Linked DNA regions of Homo sapiens: region 1 is linked to region 2. The links come from fine-mapping of genetic effects on gene expression. A gene starts in region 2. The other region holds a variant in brackets. All regions are shown on one strand. Distances are from middle to middle. Region 1 overlaps MAPK6 (mitogen-activated protein kinase 6). Region 2 holds the start of MAPK6 (mitogen-activated protein kinase 6).

The links. PIP is the estimated chance that this variant, and not a neighbour inherited with it, causes the effect. A credible set is the group of variants that fine-mapping cannot tell apart.
Region 1: its variant is the best candidate, but not a certain one, in a credible set for the expression of MAPK6 in whole blood (TOPMed, PIP 0.83).

Annotation. Positions count from the first base shown.
Region 1 is chr15:52,038,477-52,041,379 of GRCh38, forward strand. All of the region lies in intron 1 of MAPK6 (mitogen-activated protein kinase 6), which reads left to right. Among named protein-coding and RNA genes, the nearest start is that of MAPK6, 21 kb to the left of the region's middle. The variant A/G (reference allele first, on the strand shown) is at 1,607.
Region 2 is chr15:52,017,862-52,020,764 of GRCh38, forward strand. MAPK6 (mitogen-activated protein kinase 6) reads left to right here and starts at 1,358. Exons shown (of 6, transcript NM_002748.4): 1 at 1,358-1,515. It overlaps MAPK6-DT (MAPK6 divergent transcript), which reads right to left and starts at 1,234. Exons shown (of 2, transcript NR_156732.1): 1 at 838-1,234. RefSeq lists enhancers at 959-1,028, 2,369-2,418 and silencers at 1,199-1,308, 1,609-2,118.

The DNA.
Region 1 (2,903 bases), 21 kb after region 2:
CATTGCATGTAATTGGTAGAGATGGTGGGTACTTTAGCAGCTTGGCTGACAGCTACGTTGAACTTGTGGCATGAGCAAGACTTAGATTTTTGGGGGCCATCTATTATCCTGACTGCTTTGAAAATTTATATTTTCATCTAGTTAGAATCCTCAGGTGTCCAAAGGTGCTTGAAGAAAGAGGCTGTGCACATGTCTCCTGTCCTATATTTGCTCCAATATTTCTTTAATGTTAGTTAGGTTAGGAATCTTAGAATAAAGCCTCCTGCCGGGAGGAAGATAAGAAATGGGATCAAGCGTTATTATAATTATTTAAAAATTTCCAGCCGTAAGTTTGTAGAAGGGATTATATTTGTTTAGTATACAGCAATTTGAATAACATCTCTCCCATTCTGAGCATACCACCACAGGGCTTGGGAATAAAACTAAAGAAATATAAGACTTGTAAATCATAGACTTAGAATTGGAAGAGTCTATAGGGATGTTATTACTAGTTTATCTGGTCTATGAATTTTTGAATTTCTAATATGAATGGGTTACAGTAAATCTGTAACTAGGAGATGGAGTCTCCCTCTGTCCCTCAGGCTGAAGTGCAGTGGCACGATCTTGGCTCACTGCAACCTCCACCTCCCAGGTTCAAGCGATTCTCCTGCCTCAGCTCCTGAGTAGCTGATTACAGCAGTGCACCACCATGCCAAGCTAATTTTTGTATTTTTAGTAGAGATGGAGTTTGACCATGTTGGTCAGGCTGGTCGCAGGTGATCCACCCGCCTTGGCCTCCCAAAGTGCATGAGCCACCACGCCTGGCTGTAACTAGACTTACTAGTTGTAATCTGGTTACAGATTTACTGTAAGTCATCCATACTGGAAAATAACAACTAGAGATAAGCAACAAAATAAACATAATGGCATGTGCTTTACAATGGCTTTTTAAATGGCCAAAGGCAAATGAAAGCCCCTAATGTTAAAATGCATGTAGGCAAGGGCTTAAACAATTTAAGAACACAAATTGGTAGTAGTAGGTGAGTGTTTTGTCTTTTTTTTTTTTTTTTTTTTTTTGAAGACAGGGTCTCACTCTGTTGCCCAAGCTGGAGTGCAGTGGTGTGATCTCAGCTCACTGCAGCGTCCGCCTCCCAGGTTCAAGCGATTCTCCAACCTCAGCCTCCTGAGTAGCTGGGATTACAGGTGTGAGCCACGACACCTGGCTAGTTTTTGTATTGTTAGTAGAGACAGGGGTTTTACCATGTTGGCCAGGCTGGTCTCCAACTCCTGGCCTCAGGTGTTCTGCCCACCTTGGACTCCCAAAGTGCTAGGATTACAAGTGTGAGCCACCACGCCCAGCCTGTTTTGTCTTTAAATTGGATACTTTGTTACTGTCTTCTCTGACTTTGAAAGTTTGTCTCTGTAGATAAGCATAGTTACTGATACTACCCAAAGCCTTTCAGACTTTGGCATTTTAGATTTAAGGTCCCATGTCTTTTCCCAGGTTCCTAAGATTATTTGTTGTTAATAGTTTATACTCCCAGCCTCCTTGATGTCCAAATCCTGAAAGGGCCCCTGATAACTCTTATGGCCGCCCACCATACATTAGGAGCAAGGGCTTTGTCAA[A/G]AATGCAGTGAGCAAGCAGCTAAGCTGTAGCACTTGGCCTTCTCTGCCCGAAAATCTTAGTAGCTTTGATGAGAGCTTGAGACATGATCTCAGGGAAGGGTGAATTTGCTACAGCTACATTTATCTGTGCCAGGGTTAGGAGATAGCCCTAGGTGAATATAAGAAAAGCTCAACCTTTCCCTTCTGTCCAAAAGCAACTGGGTTTTGGCTGAGGAGATGTGAGGCTGGCTAGGTTCCTGTTAACTCAAATTACTCACTTGACTATGGAGAAGAGCAAAATAAGAGCCTTTGTGGAGAGGGGATGGGGGAAGTGCTGTGCTGTCAGTGAATGTGAACAGGCCAGATGACCCATGTCAGCATTTATCCTGAGAAGCAGCAGAGCAGAAGGTTGAGGAGAAAACCAGAAAAAGTAACCTTTATGTTTATGGCCCTTACTTCAAACTTTCTTTGCACATCTAGACTTCCTTTTTGACATAAGTAGGCCAAGTTGCTCCTTGATAAGAAAAAAAGAAAATTCTGGCGAGATAGGACAAAGTAAAGTTACTTCTTTTGTTTGCATTTCATTACTTTATACACTTAGGCTTGACTCCCAGTACCAGCATTACTCTTGGTGTGGGGGTAGACCAGCTGACAGGGAGCAGGAGGTAATGTAGCAAAGAGAGCAGTGCTTGAGCAGACAGTTGTGGCTAATGCAGTTTCAGGGAACTGCCTTATAAACTTAGGAAGCTGGTATCCAGCCTGCATTATAAAGAGCTTTTAATTCCATGACATGGTAGATCACTGAAAGAAAGCCAAAGAAAAAGCAAAAAGCCAACTTTTATTCTTATAAATTATTCTCTTTACTTCATTTTATTCACCAAATTTTTAAAAACAAAACAATATCGAACCAGCTAATTAAACTTAATGATCACTCCCCAAACAACCCAGAATCAGCAATGGTTGGTAGGAATGGGTAACATTTATTTGGAAGCAGAGAAATTGGAAAGATGCTGGAAAGGGTCCCTTTATGTTACCTTCCTTTTTACTGCCTTGTTGAAGTGTGTAGAACGTGTAAAAAGAATATGGAGCCCCAGTTTTTTCCTGGGTCTAAGCTTTAAACTTTGTTTTTTTGTTTTTTTGTTTTTTTGTTTTGAGATGGAATTTTGCTCTTGTTGCTCAGGCTAGAGTGCAATGGCGCGATCTCGGCTCACAGCGACCTCCACCTCCTGGGTTCAAGCCATTCTCCTGCCTCAGCCTCTGGAGTAGCTGGGATTACAGACATGCGCCACCACGCCCAGCTAATTTTGTATTTTTAGTA
Region 2 (2,903 bases):
GAGCTCTCGTTGCAGAAGCTGGAAATTCTGCGGTTGGAACAAGTCTCCCCTTTCTCTTGGTTTTTTTCACTCATTACCTCTTCTTCACACCTGGTACTCAGCTGACGTTGTTTTAAATATTAAAAAATATAAAGCATTCAAGCTCACCCCAACCACTTAACTTCATTACTCTGTGATTTTTTTTTTTGAGACAGAGTTTCGCCCTTTCGCCCAGGCTGGAGTGTCCTGGCGCGATCTCGGCTCACTGCAACCCCCCGCGGGGTTCAAGCTATTCTCCTGCCTCAGCCTCCCGAGTAGCTGGGATTACAGGTGTGAGCCACCACACCCGGCTACTTTTTGTATTTTTAGTGGAGACGGGGCTTTCACCATGTTGGCCATGCTGGTCTCGAACTCCTGGCCTCAGGTGATCTGCCCGTCTCGGCCTCCCAAAGTGCTAGGATTACAGGCGTGAACCACCACGCCTGGCCCTTTGTGATCTTTTTGAAGTGGTCTTTGCCTCTTTCTTGAAGATGCCCATAATAATGACTAGAAGGGCTATTCTATGTCTGGTTCTCAGCAAGATGGTGATGAAGTCATTGAAAAAATATGCTGACCTGCGTCTCTAATTTCATAAATACTTAAATTTCACATAAACACTGAAAAGGCTCCTTGGACTCAATAAGCCATGATAAGTAATGTAAGTTTGCTTTTAGCCAAGTGGGCCCAAGAAGGCACCCATCCACCTTTCTACGTTTCATAGTGCATCCCTTCCCAAATTCAAATTGTCCTATCCCAGTTCCTGCAACAAGCCAGGTACTCTGGCCTCCCAGTCTTTGCTCACAGAAACACCCTCCCCACCTCCTGGTTATATCCGCTCCTCCGGGATCCAGCTGAAAGGCCACCTTGGCGACCACTCCTGAAAGCCTTCCTCCATACTCTGGCAGAATGAATGACCTTAGTATTGGCCTCTAACGCGTCTGTCTTGTGCTCGGGCTGTCGCCTTCCAGCCAATCCATCTTAAGGTCCACCCTTCCTGGAGACTGAGGCCTCTTCCTCTCGGATTGCCCAGTGCCTTGCACGTAGTAGGTGCTTAGTAAACGCTGGCACTGGGTTTGGTCACTTTGTTCCCTTAATGCCAGGGCAGGTAGTAGAGCAAACGGCCCCAGCTGTCTTCCTCCCTGCCCGCCCGCAGGCAAAGCCCCCAGGAGACGCCGGACGAGCCGCGTGCCTTTCCCACCGCCTCCGCGGCGCGCGCAGCCCAGTCACGGGCGCTGGAAATTCCGGCGCGTGCGGGTGCGCTGGGCAGGGCGGGGGCGGGAGAACCCGTGGAGTGAGCCTGTGACGTGAGGGGGCGTGGCACCGCGAAGCCCCGCCCCCTCTTCCTCGCCCTCTCTCGCGGGTCGGGGTTACATGGCGGCGACTGCGGCAAAGCGAGAGCCTCGGAGACGCCGCTGCCGCCAGCACAGCCGGAGACCTGAGCCGACACTGGGGGCAGTCCGCGAGCCCCGCACTCTCTCGATGAGTCGGAGAAGTCCCGTGAGTGTGTGTGTGTACGTGTGCGGGGTGCGCCGGCGGGGCGGCTCGGGAGGGCGCCGCGGCGGGCCCGGCGGCGGCGGCGGCGGCGGCGACGGCGGAGCCGGCTCCCTCCTCCATTGTGTGTGACCCTCCGGCGGCTGCCGCTCAACAAAGGCGTTTTTGTTCGGTCTGCCGCCCGCCCCCTGCTCGCCCGCCTGCCCGCCCGCTCGGGCCTGGCCGGCGCGTCCCCGCGCGGGCGGGCGGGCGGCGGGCTGGGGTCCCCGCGTGGGGCCGGCCAGGCGGCCAGCGCGCCCCTCCCACCCGGCACGCCCCTCGCCGGTCGCCCTGCCAGGCCGCGCCCGCTCCCTGGCCCCGCACGCCTGCTGCCGTCCCGCCGCCTGCGCCTGGCTCCGCGGGTTCGAAACCCAGCCGGACCGGACCGGAGGGCGGGCGAGCGAGGGGCGGCGGCCCGGGGAACATGAGGTGGCGTGGAGTCTCGCCTTACTGGCACGCTGCCTTTCGAAATGCTCCCGCGTCTCCTCCCCCATCCCACCCGGTGACTCGGCCTCAGCTGACTCCGGCCGGGCAAAGTCTCCAGTGGCGTAGCGCGCAGCGCTCACCCGGCTCGTCTCAGAGCCCTGAAGTCCGCCCAAGTTTTGAGTCTTGCCATGAATGAGGTACTGAAAACTCGGAGACGAAATTCCTAATTTCCTCCCTCGGCCCTACAGTCTTTCCTTAGCTTCTTTCGGGACCTTAAGTGGTGGTCTGTAAAAGTGCCCAAATGAAAGCTTGTTTTGTCGGTTCACCAAAAAGGGCCTTGTCACTTTGCTGTGCATTTTAGTCCGCCTTGTGAGTTGTGTCGAAAAGTAAAGGTGTTTTGGCATCCTTTTGTTTCTTGGCGAGTGTAGGACCCAACCGGTTTAGGTGTTAGGGGGATCTCTGTGCAGCGGGAGCTTCTTGATTCCTTTCCTGTTTTATTTTTTCTTTTGCTTGTTCATTGGAAAAGGTCCAGTGAAAGGGACTGGTGAGTTGGAATTAGAAGCCTACTTGTATTAACGGCAGAATTCGTGTTCATTGCTAAAGATGCAGTCTCAGTAATGACTTTTTTTTTTTTAACGGATACAGATGATTTGTCAAGGGGAAAAATTAACACGCCATACAATGAAGAGCAAGCAGCTTCAGAGTAATTTTCTGATGGCTGATTCTTCTAGCCTGTCTCTTACAGTTCCAATTGCACATGTCCTCCCTCTTTAACGCTGGAAAACTGAGATGGAAAGAATGATCTGACCAGAAGAATGTAGGGTCCAAACAGGGCCTGGCCCTGAAATCAGGAATTTCTTCATAGAAATATCAGATTTTAATGTTTAAAAAATAATTTTGAATTGGGTGAAAGGAACTTTGTCTTTAGA